Linked DNA regions of Homo sapiens: region 1 is linked to region 2. Evidence: fine-mapped expression QTL. A gene starts in region 2. The other region holds a variant in brackets. All regions are shown on one strand. Distances are between the middles of the regions.

Region 1 (10,518 bases), 25 kb after region 2:
TCTCCAGCTCTGGGCTCTCCCGTTGGTCTAGAATATGTTTGCAGTGGTCCCTGACAGGTGTAGTTTCTGTGGCGTTGTGTCATGCCCTTTGGTGTGCCTGCTCTCCTCACCCTGTTCCATTCTTTTTTTCTGTTTCTTAAGCAGTTCTTACTAGTTTGCTTTTGGATGAGTTTTCACAACATTGTCCAGCTCCTGTAGAAAAACGTGAAATAGTGTTGAGTGCCTACATGGATCCCTGAGCTCAGAGGTGATGGACCGGTTCTGACAGCCAGAGCCCACCACCGGCTCTGCCCCTCGTGCTGAGCCTTGGTGCTTGGACCTCACGAGGCTCAAATCCTGCGTGTGTTCCAGGCCACTTTCATTTTGCCAGTTTCTGGGCTTGCATACCAGATGACCATGAGCATCTCAGAATGGTGCAGAGTGCGGGGGAGAGCTGCCGTCCGTGCTAGAGAGGCCTGTTCCAGCCCCACCGCCAGGCGGTGTGTCGTTGGATTACCCACAGTCGCGTCTTCTGCAACATTTTCCTGCAGTCCTTTTTGCTCTGAACCCGCCCCACTGAGCTCCCTCGCACACTGTTGAGCCTGATACTCTGTGAGCAGACCTGACCAGGGCACCGAGATGGGGTGGTTTGAAGGCACCTCCTAGGCAGCATGCCACGTATAGCCTGCTGGAGAGTGGCGTCAGACTTGACACACGCAGCTGGTGCCAGCTGGGGTGCTGGGCGCCAAGGCAGCAAGGGTGGTACAGCCAGAGGAGCTCCCAGGCCACAGCCATAGCGCTTTCGAATTGGGAAAGCTACTGGCTGGGTACATTTCAGGGGAGATGGGGGGAGGAGTATTTGCTTTTGAGAAATTTTTTAACTTTCCCTTAAAACTTAGAAGGCTTTGGAATTGGAATACCAAAAATGCAGTAGAAAACCAAGGAAGGGACTCAGGAGGGAGCAGAGCGTGAGGGCAGAGAAGGGAATGAACTTTGTCAGAGGTTCTCAGACAGCTTGTAAATGTTTTCCTTTTGATGAGAAACAAAATTATTACTCAGGCTTAGCTAACATGTATTGGAAAGTGAGTAACTGATGTGCATTTTCAGAGTAGAAGATCCTAAAAACACACTCTTGTCTCCCAGTGGGGGCACACACCCTGCAGCAGGTGCTCAGCAGGCCCAGCACCCAGTCCTCAGCATGGGTCCCTTCTCTGCACTTATGCTCCCGGGACCCTTTTCCCAGACAAGAGTGTAGGCCTGGGGTCTGAGAGTCCTGCCTCTCCCACTGCTACTGTGCGCCTGGGCAGATTCTTAGCCCCACTGAGCCCCAAGTTCCTCATCCCTAAATGAAGAGAGGAACTTTGTTTTGAAGATTACTTGGTCGTACATTTCCTCGTGATGAGCACTAAGTAAATGTTTCTACAATTGTCAGCCTTTCTTCAGAGCGTCAGGGGGTTACTCGGTTCTTCCTGGGACCATCAGTCTCACTAGGTCTGTCTCAATGGACAGGGATCTGGGAGGACTGGGCTTGGAGTCTGACACAGTCTCAAATTCCAGCGATCAGGAGAGCTCAGGGAGATAGCTGGGCAGGCTCTGATGGAAACACTGTCCCAGGGAGGGCTGCAGGAAGCAAGCAGGTCTCGTCACCCTCCATAGCATGCCCTTACCCTGTGAGGGCAGAGAGGGCAGTGCACCTGCAGCCCTAAGGTCAGCACTTGACACTGCCTGCGTGGTCATGCAAATCACTGTTGATCAGAGGTAATCCAGGAAACATTTTATTTCCTTCTTTTAGAACAAACTCACGATGTTGGACATTGCATCAAATAGAATCAAAAAGATTGAAAATATCAGCCATCTAACAGAGCTGCAAGAGTTCTGGGTAAGTTTAATACACGCTGGGGTTGATGACACTTTGACTAAACTGGTCTCACTGATTAAAATGTCTTATGAATGAATACAAGAATCTCCTGTAAGCCTTCATGCTGAGTGACTCCGCACATCATGAGATTTGGGGTGGGCGCTCTTGTAGACTTGTATTGGGTGTTGTCTGTGCTCCTCAGCGTGAGCCACAGATCAGCAGCATTGACATAGCTTGTTAGAAATGCAAAATCTTGGGCCCCACCATAGCCCAGATGAAAACTGAGTCAAAATCTTTGCTTTACAAGACTCCGGGTGATTGCAGTACACACAAAGGTTGGAGAAGCCCTGATCTAGGTATGGGTAGAACCTACAATTGTCATTTGACCAAATGGTTTGCAAACCTCAGCAGAGAGGCAGACGCATTCCCTACAGATATATTCCAGCACAACAGAAGGAAATGTTGGATGGGTTTCTGCAGTTAGTCATCTTGGAATTTGCCTTGTATTTGTCTTGTCACAGGTATGGTTTCAGGAGTAGTGTTGTGGAGTCAGCAGGAAGAGAAACAGAATATAAGAAGTTTTTGCAGTTCCTCTAAAGGGGTTGGGAAATGATCCCCGAGTGGAAGTCTTCAGTGCTAGGATTCCCTTAGAGAAATCTCCTAAGGTTTATTGCCTTTCCGCTAGCACGTGGCCCTGCAGAGACTGCGGCACAGGTGTCACCCTGTGATGCTGGGAATGTAGTAGTGTCCTCAGATACATTCAGTCTAATCCAGGATTCATGCTGAGTGTAAGGCATCATTCTTCCTTGTCTCTCCTCTAGCCGTGCTGCTGACCCTGCTTATGTCCTGTGCTTTCTCCTTTCCCCACTTTAAAAGGTCATCCAAGTTTCCCTAGAACACAGGTGGCCTGCTGCAAATGTTCCTTGCCCCTTATTAGTGGCACTGGGTCTTGAGTAGTGTCATGATGGGATACCAGAGCATGTCTGGGAAGATCAGAGCCAGAATTTGGCAGGTGATAAAGATGTACCAGGCCAGGGGGAGCCTCAATGAGTCCAGGTGGGTCTATGTGCAGCCCACCCTTGAAGGAAGGTGTGGCTGGTGGTAGGCTGGTTGAATTAGTGCATAGGGAGTTGGCAAAGAAGCCAGGGAACAACACAAAGAAACCAAACAACAGGAATAAGGAGTCCAGAGACAGAGGACCAGGTGATAGGGAAAGGGCACCTGGCAAAAAATTAGGGAGCAGGTTTGGGAAACGAGCTGATACTGAAGCAATGTTCCTGAAGCGTAACGATTCCTTCTGCATGCCCTGCCTAGGAACAGAGCATGGGGCACAGAGTGCTGAGACCACAGGCAGGGGCCAACCTGGGTACCACAGCTAGCAGGGAGGCAGGCAGGCTGGTGATCAATCACTAGGGGCCAGGTAGTGCCTGACCCTGTAACACAGAAGAATCCTGTTCCTTAGGCCACCAAAGATAGTAAAAAATAGCCAGAATTTGCACAGCGCTTTATGGTGTCCATACCTCTCTCCATTCTGATCCAATTATCACAGCAACCATGTGGATAAGGTCATATTACCCCATTTTACAGGTAAAGAATTGCATTCCAGGAAGGAAAGCTGCAAACCAGGAATTCTCAAACTCAGTTCCATGCTCATATCACATTTGAGAGGCACATCATTCATCTCTAAGGCAGAAATAGAAAACCAGTCTTAACAAGTTTCTGATAACCCACATACTATGTTTGTTGATTTTTCTGCCTATTTGTTCCAATTACTGAGAGGAGAATGTTGAAACCTTCCAACTATAATTGTCAATGGATCCATTTCTCCTTTCAGTTCCATCAGTTTTTGTTTCTTGTATTTTGAAAGTCTGTTATCAGGTGCATACATATTTAGAATTGAGGAATTCTTGATGAATTGATCCATTTATCATATGAAATGTTCTTCTTTCTTGCTTATCCTCTTTATCCTTGTCCTGGAAGGGTATCTTGTCTGTTATTAACACAGCCCCTTCATCTGTCTTATGATTAGCGCTCTCATGGAATCTTTCTCCATCCATTTCCTCTTAACCCATGCCTTTATAATTAAAATGTGTTTTTCATAAAAAGTATGTAACTAGATCTTGCTTTCTTCTCCAGTCTGAGAATCTCTGCCTTTTAAGTGGTGTCTTTAGACTGCTTACATTTAATATAATTACATTTAATTACATTTTGTGTAATGGTTGAGTTTAAGTCTATCATCTTAGTATTTGTTTTTTATTTGTCTCATCTATTCTTTGTTTACTCTTTCCTACCTACTTTTTGGAGTGACTTTTTTTTTTTTGCAGTCTATTTTAACTCTATTATTGGCTTATTTGCTATACCTCTGTATTAGTGTTTTCTTGTTGATTGTTTGGAGGGAGGGTTGTTTTAGCGATTAGAATTTAAAAATACATTTTTAATTTTCACCATCTATATATTTTACATTTAAATATCTTACGATCCCCATGATACCTTATCTTTTAAAGAAATTTAAAAATGGCCAGGCGCAGTGGCTCATGCCTGTAATCCTAGCACTTTGGGAGGCCAAGGCAGGTGGATCACCTGAGATCAGGAGTTTGAGACCAGCCTGGCCAACGTGGTGAAACCCTGTCTCTACTAAAAATGCAAAACTTAGCTGGGCATGGTGGCACATGCTGTAGTCCAAGCTACTCAGGAGGCTAAGGCACGACAATCACTTGAACCTGGCAAGTGGAGATTGCAGTGGGCCAAGATCGTGCCACTGCACTCCAGCCTGGGCAAAAAAGTGAAACTCCGTCTCAAAAAAAAAAAAAAAGAAATTTAAAAACAAGAAAACTCACTTATTTTACCTTTTCTGGCATTGTTTATTCTTTCGTGTGGATCTGAGTTTCCACTTGGTATTTCCCTTCCACCTGAAGAATTCTATTGTTTTGTCGTGCATTCTGCAGTAAACCAATCCTTCACTTTGATTTGTTTGAAAAATCTATTTAATTTGCCTGCATTTTTGGAATTTAATATTATGGATACACAATTCTAGCTTGAGAGATTTTTTTTTCCTTTTTAAGTACATTAAATACTTTGTTCTTTCATCCTCTGGTTTGCATTATTTCTCCTTTATAAAATTTTTATTATTTTAAAAATATTTTTTAAAAATAAATAGAGATGGGGCCAGACACGGTGGCTCACACCTGTAATCCCAAGGTGGATCACTTCAGGTCAGGAGTTTGAGACCAACCTGACCAACATGGCGAAACCCCGTCTCAACTAAAAATTCAAAAATTAGCTGGGCGTGGTGGCACGTGCCTGTAGTCCCAGCTACTGGGGAGGCTGAGACAGGAGAATCGCTTGAATCCAGGAGGCAGAGGTTGCAGTGAGCCAAGATCATGCCACTGTAGTCCAACTTGGGCAACAGAGCAAGACTTTCTCAAAAAAAAAAAAAAAAAAAAAAAAGGACGGGATCTTGCCATGTTGCCCAGACTGGTCTCGAACTCCTGAGCTCAGACAGTCCTCCTGCCTCAGCCTCCCAAAGGGCTGGGAGTACAGGTGTGAGCCACCACACACGGCCCTGGTTTGCATTATTTCTAATAAGAAGCCAGCAGTCATTTTTATCTTTTTTCCTCTGGCTGCTTTTTAATGTTCTTTTTAATCATTGTTTCTTATTTTGTTTTGTTTTTTGCAACTTGAATATAGCGTGCCATGGTGTAGTTTATTTTCTGTGATGTGTCAGGGTTAACTGGGTCTGTGAATCTATGGTCTTCATCAAATGTGGAAAGCTTCTGGAGACTATTTTCTCTA[A/G]AACTGCTTCTGCCCTTGCTCCTCACCCCGGTTTCTCTCTGAAAACCCAGTTATGCATGTTCCCCTGGCACTAGCGAGGCCCCTGAGGCCATTGCCTCCACCCTGCTCCACCCCTTGGGCTTTCATCTTGCTGTGCTTGTTTGTATAATTTCTGTTGTTAAATCTTCAAGATCATGATCTTATCATCTGTAGTAGCCTATCTGCTGTTAAGCCCATGTCATGAATTTTTTATTTCAGATACTGTATTTTTCTCAACTCTAAAAGAACATTTGGCTTTATTTTTTTTTTTTTGGTAGATTATTTTTCTCTCTTCATTAGATTCATGTTTTCCTTTAAGTCCTTCCTTCTTCACGTCTTGTAATTTTTTATTAGATCCTGGGCTTTATGGTGTTCAATTGTTGAATGTCTGGAATTTATGTTGTTTTCCTTCAAAACATACTGAACTTTATCTGACAGGCAATTAAGTTACAGCTTGATCCTTTTGAGGCTTGTTTTTAAGCTTTATTAGAGTACATCTAAATAGTCTACTCCGTAAGATTAATCTAGCACTGTTTTGAAGCTGTGGCCCTCCTAGGATCTCTGGTGAATATCCTGTGTATTTAAGTTCTCTCCACTGTGGTTGACGGGAACACAAACATGGACCTGCTATGGGTGAGCTCTGGGCATTCTGCATCTTGGGGCTGCTTAGTAGTTCTTCGACCAGCCTTTAGCTTTTCACTCTGCCTAGCACAGCTTCATCTTCAGTCCAGGATTCCACAGGATACCATGTGGATTTCTGGAGGCTTTTTCCCTACATAGCTCACTCCTATCTATACATTCCAGCTCCCTTTGCCTCCCCAAACTACAATCACCATCTCAACTCTGTGTGGCCACCAGGCTCTGCTTGGGTTCCGCCTCCTTGTGGTCCTGAAAGTTCCTCCAGGCAGAAGGCCGGGATGATCACACCACCCACCTCATTTGTTTCCTGTCTCTCAAGAATCACTATCTGTGTTGCCTGTTGTCTGATGTATAAAAACAATTATTTCATATATTTTATCCTCTTTTTTTTTTTTTTGAGATAGAGTCTTGCTCTGTCGCCCAGGCTGGAGTGCAGTGGCGCGATCTCAGCTCACTGCAAGCTCCGCCTCCTGGGTTCACACCATTCTCCTGCCTCAGTCTCCTGAGTAGCTGGGACTACCGGTGCCCGCCACCACGCCTGGCTAATTTTTTTTGTATTTTAGTAGAGACAGGGTTTCACTGTGTTAGCCAGGACAGTCTCCATCTCCTGACCTCATGATCCGCCCGCCTTGGCCTCCCCAGGTGCTGGGATTACAGGTGTGAGCCACCGCGCCCGGCCTATTCTATCCTATTTTCTAGTAGCTTGTGACAAAGGCAGGAGCTCAGCACCAGCTATTCTGTCATGGCTTGAAACAGAAGTCCTACTTATTTATCTTACTTTTGTGTCTGTCTCCCCCACTGTATAATACAAACCTCATAAGGGCAGGGAAATTAGTGTTTGGTTTACTTTGTTTTCCCTCCCAATTTCTTTATTGTGGTAAAACATGCATAAAATAAAACTCACCATCTTAACCATGTGGAAGTGTACAGTGAGTGGTATTCAGCACATTCGTAATGGTGCACAGCCATCACCACCGTCCATCTCCAGGACTCTTTTCAACTTATAAAACTGGAACTCTGTACCCATTAAACAATAACTCCCTATTTTCCCCTTCCCAGACCTTGACAATGACCCTTCTACTTTCTGTCTCTATGAATTTAACTACAGACCTCATATCACTGGAATCATGCAGTATTTATTTTTGTGACTGGCTTACTTCACTCAGCATATTGACCTGAAGATTCACCCATTCTGTAAGCATGTGTCAGAATTGCCTTTCTTTTTAGGGCCAAATAATATTCCGCAGTATGGATATTGTTTTGTTCACTCTTATCTCACCAGCATCTGGAATAGTGCCTGATACACTTTTTTCTTTTGAGACAGAGTCTTGTTCTGTCACCCAGGCTAGAGTGCAGTAGCATGATCATGGCTCACTGAAGCCTTGGCCTCCTGAGTTCAAGTGATCCTCCCACCTCAGCCTCCCAAGTAGCTGGGACTGCAGGTGTGCACCAATGACCTGGCTACATTTGTGGGTTTTTTGTTTTGTTTCGTTTTTTGTTTTTTTGAGATGGAGTTTTGCTCTTGTCACCCAGGCTGGAGTGCAATGGCACAATCTCACTGCAGCCTCCGCTTTCCAGGTTCAAACGATTCTCCTGCCTCAGCCTCTCAGTAGCTGGGATTACAGGTGAATGCCACCACGCCTGGCTAATTTTTGCATTTTTAGCAGAGACGGGGTTTCACCATGTTGGCCAGGATGGTCTCAAACTCCTGACCTCAGGTAATCCGCCCACCTCGGCTTCCCAAAGTGCTGGGATTACAGGAGTGAGCCACTATGTCTGGACCATTTTAAAATCTTTTGTAGAGACAAGGTCTCACTGTGGTGTCCAGGCTGGTCTCAAACTCCTGAACTCAAGCAATCCTCCTGCCTGGGCCTCCCAAAGTGCTGGGATTACAGGTGTGAGCCACCATGCCCAGTCAGTGCCTGAAACATATTTGAATGAGCAGAAGGAACATAGAAAAGGCTGGCCAACTGGGTGGAGGCCAGCTACAGATAACATTGGAAAATATGTTATCCACATGTGTCAGATGCAGGGCTAACATCCTTACATTAAAAACAGCTCACACCCAGGTACCACTTGAAAACTAGGGTGTTCACAGAGCAAGAAGTAACAGTTGCTTGTAAATACATAAAGCATTTCCTATCTCATTAATTTTTTTTTCTTTCTTTTTTTTTTTTTTGAGATGGAGCTTTGCTCCTGTCGTCCAGGCTAGAGTGTAGTGGCACGATCTCGGCTCACTGCAACCTCCACCTCCCGGGTTCAAGTGATTCTCCTGCCTCAGCCTCCCAAGTAGTTGGGATTACAGGTGGCTGCCACCACCATGCCTGGCTAATTTTTGTATTTTTAGTAGAGACGGGGTTTTGCCATGTTGGCCAGGCTGGTCTTGAACTCCTGGCCTCCAGTGATCTGCCTGCCTCGGCTTCCCAAAGTGTTGGGATTACAGGCGTGAGCCACTGTGCCTGGCCATATCTCATTAACTTTTAAAATCTACTAAAACAGTGAGATACAGTGTTATCTGTCAGGTTGGTGAAGACTCATAGAATGCAGCTGCAACCAGCCTGTGATGGCAGCAGGCACTCTCGTGACTACGGAGATAGCTGTGTTTCATACAAGTTTTCTGTAGGGCATTTAGAGCCTTAAAAATACCACATGCAGCTGGGCACGGTGGCTCACACCTGTCATCCCAGCACTTTGGGAGGCTGAGACGGGTGGGTCACCTAAGGTCAGGAGTTTGAGACTAGTCTAACCAATATGGTGAAACCCCATCTCTACTAAAAATACAAAAATGAGCCAGGCGTGGCGGCATGCACCTATAGTCTCAGCTACTGGAGAGGCTGAGACAGGAGAATTGCTTGAACCCAGGAGGCGGAGGTTGCAGTGAGCCAAGATCGTGCCACTGCACGATCAGGTCAGGAGATCGAGACCATCCTAGCCAACATGGTGAAACCCTGTCTCTACTAAAATACAAAAATTTAGCTGGATGTGGTGGCACGCGCCTGTAGTCACCACTACTCGGGAGGCTGAGGCAGGAGAATCGCTTGAACCTGGGAGGCAGAGGTTGCAGTGAGCCAAGATTGTGCCACTGCACTCTAGCCTGGCGACAAAGCTAGACTCCACCTTAAAAAAAAAAAAATCATAGAGAGCTTCCTAACCAAGATTTAAAAATCAGTGAAAAAAGAAAGAATAGGTATATCTAATTTTATAAAGCGTATGTATTTTGCATGATGAAAGAGTCCATTGGTCGCCTGAGAGGTTAAGGTTAAGGTTATTTTCTATGACATACAAAAAGTTCTTTAAAGTGAAAGAAAGCGATTCAATAGAAAAATAGGTGGAGGATAGCAATACACAGTTCACCAATATGATGCATCCCGCCCCTGCCATACGCGACTTGTTTCAAGCTGACATCCAGGGCCTGGAGGGTGGGCTGAGACCAGCACTGCCCTGCTCAGGCCCCCACCCTCTTCCCAGTAATCCAGGGGAAAGGTAGCATCACAGTGACCAAAGGCAGTAGCCAGGGGAGGAGAAACATTTGGCAGGAAAGTTTCCACCCTCATGGTGTCTGATGCCGGCATGGAGCCCATCTGCCCACTGCCCTGCTGGCACAGGGGCTTCCCCAGGACCCTCCCAGATGCTCTGTTGGCAGATGCTGCCCGCTCGTTTAAGCCAAGTGATGCCATTTAAATTACATTGCAGGCCTGCTCCATGCCACAGCTGTGCTTCCTCAGCCCTCTTGATGGAATGCTTTCCTGTAGGCAGCGCCCTGCACAAGCAGCCTGTGCCAGCTTGGCACCCCTGACCCAGGGCTGTCTGGGTGTGAGCTGCAAGGAGCGGGGGGCACAGGTAGGGGCTGCTCGAGGAGAGGCTGTGTGCCTCCCTCCCAGCATGTGTGCCTGGCCTGGGCCCACTTTCTGCTCCCCTTCAGTCTAGTGATGGCCATTTCATTAGGTTTCAGTTGCATTCCTTTAATTACAGATGAGTCTAACCCTGGCGCCTCTGTTTTCAACCACTTTGTCCTTTTGTTCCCTCTTGATACTTTCTGCTAGCTTTAGTCCAGTGCATTTTCCCTTTTATTATTAACTTATAGAGATTCTATCAATGAATGATACTAAACCTTAGTATGTCATCTGTGTTGCAGATACTTTACTTTGTCACTGGTCTTCAGCTTTTTTTTTTTTTTTTGAGACAGAGTCTGGCTCTGTCACCCAGGCTGGAGTGCAGTGGCGTGATCTCGG
Region 2 (10,303 bases):
CGCCATCCTGGGTCAGAACCCGCAATGGGAGAATGGTCCACCCAAAGTGGTGCTAAAAGAAGCTCTTTCCGGGCCAGGCACGGTGGCGCACGCCTGTCATCCCAGCACTTTGGGAGGCTGAGGAGGGCGGATCACGAGGTCAGGAGATCGAGGAGATCGAGACCATCCTGACTAACACTGTGAAACTCCGTCTCCACTAAAAATACAAAAAATTAGCCGGGCATGGTGGCGGGTGCCTGTAGTCCCAGCTACTCGGGAGGCTGAGGCAGAAGAATGGTGTGAACCCGGGAGGCAGAGCTTGCAGTGAGCCGAGATCACACCACTGCACTCCAGCCTGGGCGATAGAGAGAGACTCCATGTCAAAAAAAAAGAAAAAAAAAAAGAAGCTCTTTCCAAGAAAAATACATAGGAAGATATGGGAAAGAGGGAAGGAGAGAGAGAGGAAAACAAAGAACAGGGTGGGAAGGAGCCATGAGGGAAGGCAGGGACTGCAGGTACACACCAACTGAAAATACTCCCAGGTCATGATGAACCCATCAGCACGTGGGGGCTGCACAGCTCCCATGGTCTCAGCTTTCCCCTAAACAGTGAGTCCTGACCATCCGACCAGCTGTGCACAGAATCACCTGGGTGCTGCCAACAAGTGAGGTCGCGGGGGCCATGGCCAAGAGGCCATGTCTCCTAGAGACAGGCCTGGCACCAGAGATTTGTATTTTTAGCTTTTCTCTTATACATGATTCAAATGCTGATACAGGGTGGAAATACAGGAAAATCTCACATACTCTTCCGAGTTCCCTCTCATGGTGACATCTTACAGGAGAGTGTCACAGCCAGGAAACTGACTTGATACCATCCATCAGCCTCGTCCAGATTTCAAGGCATTTACCTGCAGGTGTGTGTGTGTGTGGGTGTGCGTGTGTGTCCGTGCGTGTGTGTGCGTGTGCACATGTGTACATGAGCGTGTGTGTGTGCGCGCATGTGAGCACGTGTTCCATGCAGTCTTGTCACATGTATACATTCATGTGACCACCCTGCAGAGTGGAGATACTTAAGAGTTCCATCCTGCATATTGGCAAGCACTTGAAACACAAGTACACATTTACCAATACCCTGTCCTCATGGCCAAACTCAACAAAAAGAGCCCTTAAAGCAAGAAGATTTCCTCTACTGGCAGGAAGCCCCCACCTGGTCATCCAGGCTTTAGATAAACAGCAAGAGGAGGCTGTGGCCAATACCAGAACCATGGCTGGAGTTTCCCCCACGAAATGAGGAGACCCTGGGGCCAAGGCAAGCCCAACCACACCCCATATACCCTCTTCTGGACCACCTTCTGGGTATCCAGAACCCCAGAGTTCCCAGCCAAAGGGTCTGGTGCCCACTTCTAAGACACACACAGGCCTCTTTCCACCCAGGTCCTCCCACACTGGCACACCTATAGCCGTGAACTGGCTGAGGAGCAGCCTTCCAGGAATAGCGAGCTTGGACAAGCTAGCAGGATGCCCACACGAGGCCCTTCCAAGACAAGGCAGGCCTGGGGTGAAGAGGAAAGGGGAGGTGGCCCTCCCAACACCACCTCTTCCAATATGGAACTCCAAGGAGTCCCCCCTCCTTGCCTTATCCTAGCATCTGGTGGCTACTGGCCATACTGGCCATCTTTGGTGTTCTTGACCTGCAGCTGCGTCACTCCAGTCTCCGCCTTCGCCATCACAGAGCTTCTCCCTGTTTGTTTGTTTCTTTTTTTTGAGACAGAGTCTCGCTGTGTCGCCCAGGGTGGAGTGCAGTGGCGCGACTTCGGCTCACTGCAACCTCCGCCTCCCGGGTTCACGCCATTCTCCTGCCTCAGCCTCCCGAGTAGCTGGGACTACAGGCAGCCGCCACCACGCCTGGCTAATTTTTGGTATTTTTAGTAGAGTCAGGGTTTCACCGTGTTAGCCAAGATGGTCTCGATCTCCTGACCTCGTGATCCACCTGCTGCGGCCTCCCAAACTGCTGGGATTACAGGCGTGAGCCACCGCGCCCGGCCGACTTCTCCCTGTTTGTATGTATCTTCACATGGCCATCTTTTTTTTTAACTAGGAGATGAGGTCTCACTATGGTGCCCAGGGCATAAAAGATCTGATCTGTGGAAGTCAAAACACTAAACTTTTTAGCCAGGCAGGTCTCGTGGCCTGCACCTATAGTCCGAGCCACTCTAGAAGCTAAGGCAGGATAATTGCTTGAGCCCAGGGAGATGGAGGCCAGCCTAGGCAACAAAGCGAGACCTGTCAAACCAAATAAAATATAAAATAAAATCACTAAGTTTTTAGGAGAAAAGAGGCTATCTGTAAGACTTTGGGGTAGGGAAAGTTTTCTTAAACAAGGCACAAAAAACTCTAGCTATAAAATAAGATTAATAAGTTTAACGTTAAAATTGAGAACACATCACACCTGTAATCCCAGCACTTTGGGAGGCCGAGGCAAGCAGATCACGAGGTCAAGAGATCAAGACCATCCTGACCAATGTGGTGAAACCCCATCTCTACTAAAAAAAAAAAAATTAGCTGAGCATGGTGGCACACACCTGTATTCCCAGCTACTCTGGAGGCAGAGGCAGGAGAATCGCTTGAACCTGGGAGGTGGAGGTTGTAATGAGCCGAGATGACACCACTGCCCTCCAGCCTGGCGACACAACCTGGCAGGTGGAGGTTGCAATGAGCTGAGATCACGCCACTGCACTCCAGCCTGGCGACACAGCGAGACTCCGTCCCCCCCAAAAAAAAGAAAAAAAAAAATGAGAACACAGCTTCACAAAGAATACCATAAAGAAAACGAAAGAACAAGCCACAATTTGGGAGAAGATATTTGCCACATACATAACCAACAGAAAATTAATATCCAGAATAGCTTTAAAAGATCAACTATTTAAAATTTAAACATTTTTAAAAGACACATGGCCCAATAAAAAATGTCAAGAAATAGGAACAAGCGTTTTACAGGAGAGGAAATCCTAATCATGATGATGTTATACCTACTAAGTCAGCAGAAATGAAGAATCTAGTAATACCCAATGTCAAAAAGGATTTGGATCAACAGGAACTCTTAATACATTAATATAATCTCTTTAGAAAACAATTCAAGTGAAACATTTGTCTATATGGATACAGCACTTTTCACTTAGATTTATATTTCAGAGAAATTTTTGCAAACAGATAAGAAGACACCAGAATGTTCGGGACAATATGGTTCTCAATGGCAAAGAGACAGGCAGAAAAAAGGGAGGGAAGAAAGGGAGGGAGTGCGGGAGAGAGGGAGGAAAAAAGGAAATGAAACCCAAACACTCTTTAACAAGAAGATAGATTTTAAATTCTGGTATATTCATACCACTAATTACAGCAGTGAAAACAAATAAACTACACACAAGGGTGAATCTTAGCCATATACGAGTGGAAAAAATCAAGTTACGGAAGACAATCAGCAGGAGGATTCCTTTGTCATGAAATAATCTAAATAAGTAGTTCAGGGAAACACACCTATGTAATTAAACTACTTCTTAAATAAGAGACTGGTAAACCTAAATTTCAGGCAGGTGGTTCCCTCTGGGTCAGGCAGGTGCAAGAGTGGGGAAGAGGCACAAGGGCACAGGTCCCCTGATTTCCTAGGGTGATGGGTTCAAATGCATCCACTCTGCTGGTACAATTCATGACTAACACTGCCTTTATTCTTTTGTATGAATAAACTGATACGGCCAAAAAATTCAGAGACATTCACACACAAACCCAGCCTAGGACCCTGGAAGGCAAAGGCTCTGCAAACCTGCAGATGTGTAGGAAGCTATTACATATAGGGTTTGGGGTTCGAGTGTGCAGCTTTCCTACAAGCAGCAACAATGAATGGGACCTTTAGTTACAGGTTTACATCTCCTTCTCTAAGCATCCAAATGCACTAATTATTGCCATAATAAATAACAATGACATGATTATAGTGTGAGGCAGTTTTTTCTACTTTTAGAACCAACCTATAGACAAAGCTCAGGACACTTAATTATAGCTTCAGAATACATTGTAAATGTTGTAAAACCTTACTTTCTTAAAAAAGTAATATAACTCTTCAGAATACATTGTTAGAAAACTTTAATTCCTAAAAAATATAACTCTTCAGACTGCAATGTCAATGTTACAAAACTATTTTAAAAAGTCATATACCCAGTACTTTGGGAGGCCAGGCAGATTACTTGAGCCCAGGAGTTCGAGATCAGCCTGGGCAACATAGGGAGACCCCATCTCTACAAAAAAAAAATTAAAAATTAGCAAGGTGTGGTGGCACATGCTGGTAGTCCCAGCTGCTTGGGAGGTTGAGGTGGGAGAATCGCTTCAGCCCAGGAGGCGGAGGCTGCAGTGAGAGGACACAGCACCACTGCACTCCAGCCTGGGCCACAGAGCAAGACCCTGTCTCAAAAAATAAAATAATAAAAAAGTAATATAACTATTCAGAATATATTGTAAATGTTACAGAAGTTTCTTTGTAAAAGTAACTAACATGAAATGGAAAGGGGGAAAAAAAGCAAAGGGAGGGTAAGGGCATGCAATTTTTTGTCCTTCATGGGAGAAAGTAAATAAATACCAACTAAAGTTGTGGAAGTTTAATTAGGTTACTGAGAGTTACAAGCCTATCCAGGAGGGAAACTGATGGGACCCTCTGCGGGAGCGGGGAGGACAGCAGGAAAGATGCATCCTTTTTCCCGCTGTGCCTCCTGGGCATCTGAAGTCCACGTGGGCCAGTTTGTCACTGAACAGCATAGGCCCCTGGAGCCTCCCGTGCACTCCACAGCCACAGCCTGGCCTCAAGAAAGAACAGAGTCTGGCTTCACATGACCTTAGATCACTAAATTTTGACTCAGACGTTAACCAGAAATACCTGCACGTCCAGGCCCAAATTTTTAAAATTGTCCTTTGTATCCACTGTGAGCTGCAGACACGGGAACCCAAACCCAGCAGACAGCACCTAATGGTGCCACCGAGTAACCATATTCCCATTGCTAGTTTTGATTCCAGAAGACACAAGTGACCCCACCTCAGACCAAACAGAAGCAAGGACAACTTTGCAGGGAGCATCTCGGCGAACTTCTAGAAGCAACTGTCCCCCTCCCACCAGAACATAAGCTAAGAAGCAAACAGCTCCCATTGCTGTCAGCACAGCTGTACAACAAAAAGGAGAACCAGTTTCAGGATGAGGCCAACAAGGTGAACAGTGCAGTAGAACACAGCAAGGATGTCAGTCCTGGAGGAGGCACCTGCAGAGCCGGGCCCTACCAAGCAGAGTGAAGAAGTCTTTCAGAGGCAAAGCCTCCCAGAGAGGAGTTCAGTACCCAGAAGAGTAGGTGGACGTGGGCCTGGAAGGGCCAAGCATGAGCCCAGAGCCTCCTATGCCTGCCCAAAGTCTTAATTTTATCCCCAAAATGAACTTTTAAGGATTCAATGCTTAGGAGTAACATGGCCAGATATGCATTTTACAAAGATTACTCCAGGGACCATGTCGGTGCAAGGCTGGAAAGCAGGAGAAAGGCTACAGTAATCCAGGCAAGAAATTATAAAGTCTTAAATTAAGGTAGCAGCAGAAAGATGAAGAGAGGGAACCCCTAAGAGAAAAATGGACATCGAATGGTACTGAGATGCGGAAGGTAAGGACGAGAAAGGCCTCAAGACGGCAGCGCAGGCCCCTGCCGTACTCTGGGAAAGAAAAATTAGTGAAAAAATTAAGGCTCAAGTCCAGGTCTTTGCTGTAACCACGAGCGCCGGCGGCGCGCGCCCCCGACCCCGCGGCGCCGGCTGAGCCCGCAGGGACCCACACGCCCAGTGCAGGAGGCTGGCGGGATCCGGGCTGGTTCTCCTGGAGCTCGCCCCGCAGGGCCGGCTGCGGTGAAGAGAGCGCAGGGTCCCGAGGCGACCCGAGGCGCGGGGCCTCGGCGCCCACCGGGCAGGCTACACTGAAGGGCACCCCGAAGACGCTGGGGGCGCGGGGCCCAGGGCCAACGGCCGCAACCCCGCCGCGATTTGGGCACGGAGAGGACGCGGGCTCGGCGGTGCGCGAAGGGCGACGGGCGCAGGGGCGGGAGACCCGGGGTCGGGCTGGTCTAAGAGTCGGGCGGCGGATCCTCCTGGGCCAGGGGCGCGGAGCCGCGCAGGCCCCACAGCCGCCCTGGGGAGATGGCGGAGCCCGGCCCGCTCTCCCGAGCGCAGGTATCTCACCTGGATCAGGCGAGGGTCACGCCAAGCCGGCTACACACCACGGAAAGGAGCCCTTCCGCGCTTTTATCCCACCGACCAATCGCACAGCGACTAGCACCGATTGACAAGCTCCACGGACCAGCCACTTGCGCGTATGGGCGGGACTAAGCTAGCCAGAGTCTAGAAGCCCGCGCTAAGGGTTGCTAGGGACGCACCAAACACCCCTACGGCGCTTCGGAGGAGCCAAAGGAATAATGGGCGCCTCCGCCCCCGGGCCGGGCAGATGCGGTTTCCTCCCGACTCGCGATCAAAATGGGTGAGTAGCGCAGAGCTCGCCTCTTGGAGGCCTCTTTCTGAAGGCGGAGGACGCGGGGCGGCTCGTTCATGGGCCGGGTGGCTCCGCAGGGTAGACGAAGGCTGCAGCGTCCGCACTGGGCTGGGAACGACTTGCAAGGGGAGCCCAGCTGGCGCCCCGGAGCCAGCCAGCTGGCTAGCGGCCCCACCAGCGCAAGTGCCCCGCACCTGCCCGCCTGCTCCGAGCGTCAAGAGAAGGCGGCATTTCGCATGGGTAAAATCCGCGCGGGGACGCCGGGAGAATGTTGTTGCTCTTGCCGTTCGGCCCATTGTACAGACGCAGCCAGCGAGGCTCGCAGAGGTCAGGGATGCACGTAGGACTGGCCCGCACCTTGCAGCCACGGAAAGATCCGCCTGGCCCGCGGCCCCTCCACGCCTCCGAGGTCGAGACAGTGACATAAGTCAACTCTCAAGCCCAGGGCGTCTCTCCACTCTGCCTAGACGTCCACTCCGTCTGCCTGCAGCTACGGCTCTGTGCGTCCCGCTTCGACTCCCTCTGCTTTCCTTCCCAGCTTCTCGCCTCCAGACTGTTCCGGCTCCGCCGCCTGAAATTACCTGCTCTGGGGGAGGCGCGGCGCGCGGCCTCATGACGGAACTACAACTCCCATGAGGCGCTGGGCCCACGCAGGCGCGGCGCGGCTGAAGTCGCCGCGCCGGAATCCCATTGGCAGGGCCGGCTCTGAGGCGGGAGCCCTGATTGGCTGAGGGGTCTGAGGCGACAGATTCCGGAAAGGGGAAGAGCAGCCAACATGGCGGCGGAACGCGGCGCGGGGCAGCAACAGTCGCAGGAGATGATGGAGGGTGAGCGGCCCCTGCGGGCGGCGGCCCAAGGGCCCAGCGGGCGGGGGGAGCTGCGGGCTGGAACTGCTCCGTGCCTGAGAGAAACTCCACGTCCTGCCTCTGGCCGCCGCCGCGCGGCCCCCTGACAGCTGACAGCCGGACCCGGGGGAGCGGGGGAGGCGCTGGACCTCGGGGGAGCCCCGGCCCGGGGGCGGCAGCGGCCGGGAAGGACCCAGAGCTAGGGGGAGAGCGGCGGCGCGAGGCCAGGCCGGGGGTGGGGCTGAATGGGACGCGGTGGCTCCATTCAGTCCAGTTGGAGCCTCGCCCCGAGCCTCTGAGATTGACGGGCGGGGGAGCCTCCTCGGTCAGCTGACGAGGAAACTGAGGCGCTGGGATCTACCAGAGTCTGCTCCTTGGTTCACGTGGTGAGGGTGGAGAAGGGTCTTCTCTTGAAATCGAATGGACTGTTGGGAAGGGGTAACAAGGAACCGGAAGATTGAGTTACACAAGGTGATACCTGTTTTCAAAGCTGTCATAGTTCCAAAAAGTCTGAATTCAACTTTCTTCCTCCTCATTCACTTTGTTGGAAAAAAAAACCACATGCATATATGTATATGTTATACGTACACATGTGTTTATAATTTTCTGCATATCTGTAGGTACAGTCATATACGTGCACGTACAGTATGTGTGTAAAAATGCGTGCACACACCCACTTAGCAACTGGGGAATCAGTTGTGTCATCAGCTTAAGTACTTTTGGGTCCCATGGTTTGGTGAGGGGTACAGACCTCCCAGAAGAGCAGTCACTGCCTTATGTGAAAGGGGTAGGGAAGAGGAATGTGGAGCTGGGGAAGGAGGGCGGGTGCAGCAGGAAGGCCTGACATGTTAGGGAGTGGTGACAGCTGCAGAAGCAGGGCGAGCTCTGAGCTGGAGCCTGAAGAATAACTCGAAGGCAACGAGGTTGGGGATAGGGTGAGGGAAAAGAGCAAGAATCACTCAAGACGGAGAAAACTGCTGTCAAAAGGTGTGGAGGAGAGTTTGACCAAATCGTATGTGGTGGGGATGGGGGCGGTAGTGTTAAGGGTCTTGGACTTCATACCCTTTGAGTCTTTTTAAGAAGCGCCTCTTCATATCCTCCCACTCCCTCTTCAGCTGTTTCCATGTCTTGGTAAATGACAGATATAAAAGCCCGGCTTTTCTCACTGTCCCACTCCCACCCATGTCCTGTTAGTCAAGGAGCTCTGACTTTTACTTTTGAAAGTATCTCCAAATCTCCGATACGTCCTCCATTCCCATTGCCAGTACCTTAACTCAGACCTTCATCATCTCTAGGCTAGATTGATTGTCCCTGTTCACCAGCCCATCATCCCCAGTACACCAAAGTCATTTTCTTACATGCAGAGCCACTGTCCCATGTTCCAGACCCTCTCTGCTGCCCTCAGGCTTCACTTTGGCCAACCTTCGTTAGCTAAGCCTTTGCTAACCTCACACCACTCCTCCTCTTACTGGGGTTTTTGTGCCAGATTGTCATGCAGTAGAACTTTCTCTCCCTGAGCCTGGACCACCAAGTGACCTGTGCCTGGTGGTGACTAATTTGTTATATATCTACTGCATGTCATGCACGTGCTAACTGCTCTTGTGCCTTTTCTAATTTAACCGTGACAGCAACTTGCTGAGGCATAGGTGCTATACTAGCTCCCTTCCACAGACTAGGAGATTGAGGCTTTCAAATGGAAACGATTTGCCAAAGCTGCATCTCTAGCAGCAAGATGCAAACTCAGGAAGAGCATTCCAGAAATACTTTTGGACTCAAAAGATCAGATTTGGATTTTAGAATTAGATCAGACTCTCTGGCAGGGGAGAATAGGTTAAGCAGGGCAAGACAAGTCACAGAGACGAGTTAGGAGGCAGGGCAGGAGCCCAGGCTGCAGCTAATAAGTAAGTGAGCCACCGTCATTGCGGGGGTAGGGAAGAAGAGATGGATTTGGAGGTTTTGGAGGTGGGTTTTATAAGGACTTGTTTTCTACAGCAATCCTTTCTTGGGTTTTACTTTGCTAGGCTAAGCGGGAAGTACAAAGATGAAGTTGAACTTTTTCCCTCAAAGAGCACATCTCTTTGTAGATAAACCATAGTCAGGAAAGAGTATTTTCAGTATGGTTGATAATTCCAAGTAATGTGTTAGTGCCTCATGTTTTCCAGACAGACTTCCAAAAGAGGTCATGAGTAAAGTTATAAAAAAGAAAAATGATTTGACAACCTTACCAAAGAATTTTTACCTGACACATTGAATTGCCTTATTCTTTAATTCAAAAAATATTTATGAACCTTTAAAAGCCTTAAGTTGCTAACACTCTGTCCAGTGTCCAGTGTGAAAGCTCATTTCACACCAATGAGCTTTCTGTGGGCGGTCAGCACTATTGGCTGTATTCTCCTTTTCCTTAGTGATCCTCCCTGCCCACAGTCTGATTTGAGTTAGTCTTGATTTCTTTCAGAACGTGGGCCTGTGAACTTGGCTGGTTTTCTTAGCCAGATAAATAGTGGAGCATGGATGGAGGTATGTGGCAGAAGGGTCACAGTGGTGATCCCCCAGCCCAAAAGTGAAAGGCACTCAGGAGGTGCTTCACTACCGGGTTCCATTAGTGGATTTAATCACAGGTGATCCAAGGCTTTCAGAACACTGGGCAATTCTTCACAAGCTCCTTGAGGGCAGAAGTAGTGTGTTCCTCACCTAAGTATCCATGTGGGCTCCACACTCTGCTCCCCATTCTCCCCGCGGCCATATGCCTCAAATGGTGCTGGGACATGGGAGACACTCAGATGTTCGTTGAACTGGATTCAACAAACATGTTTAAATGAAATCCTTTTGACTTACAACCGGGTGTTTATTATATGTTCCTCAAAGTCCCATAAAGTGGATGTGAATTCTCATTGACATGTGTGGGTTCAGTTGACAGGCGGGTCGAG

Evidence for each region. PIP is the estimated chance that this variant, and not a neighbour inherited with it, causes the effect. A credible set is the group of variants that fine-mapping cannot tell apart.
Region 1: its variant is the best candidate, but not a certain one, in a credible set for the expression of PASK in nucleus accumbens (GTEx, PIP 0.52).

Annotation. Positions count from the first base shown.
Region 1 is chr2:241,168,010-241,178,527 of GRCh38, forward strand. It overlaps PPP1R7 (protein phosphatase 1 regulatory subunit 7), which reads left to right. Exons shown (of 10, transcript NM_002712.3): 9 at 1,772-1,858. The region is part of intron 2 of LOC105373971 (a long non-coding RNA gene); the gene reads right to left. Among named protein-coding and RNA genes, the nearest start is that of ANO7, 15 kb to the right of the region's middle. The variant A/G (reference allele first, on the strand shown) is at 5,630.
Region 2 is chr2:241,143,190-241,153,492 of GRCh38, forward strand. It overlaps PASK (PAS domain containing serine/threonine kinase), which reads right to left and starts at 6,283. Exons shown (of 18, transcript NM_015148.4): 1 at 6,225-6,283. It overlaps PPP1R7 (protein phosphatase 1 regulatory subunit 7), which reads left to right and starts at 7,278. Exons shown (of 10, transcript NM_002712.3): 1 at 7,278-7,358; 2 at 10,287-10,303. The coding sequence starts at 7,307. RefSeq lists enhancers at 5,237-5,396, 6,910-7,069 and silencers at 5,650-5,699, 5,750-5,809, 5,870-6,229, 7,360-7,699.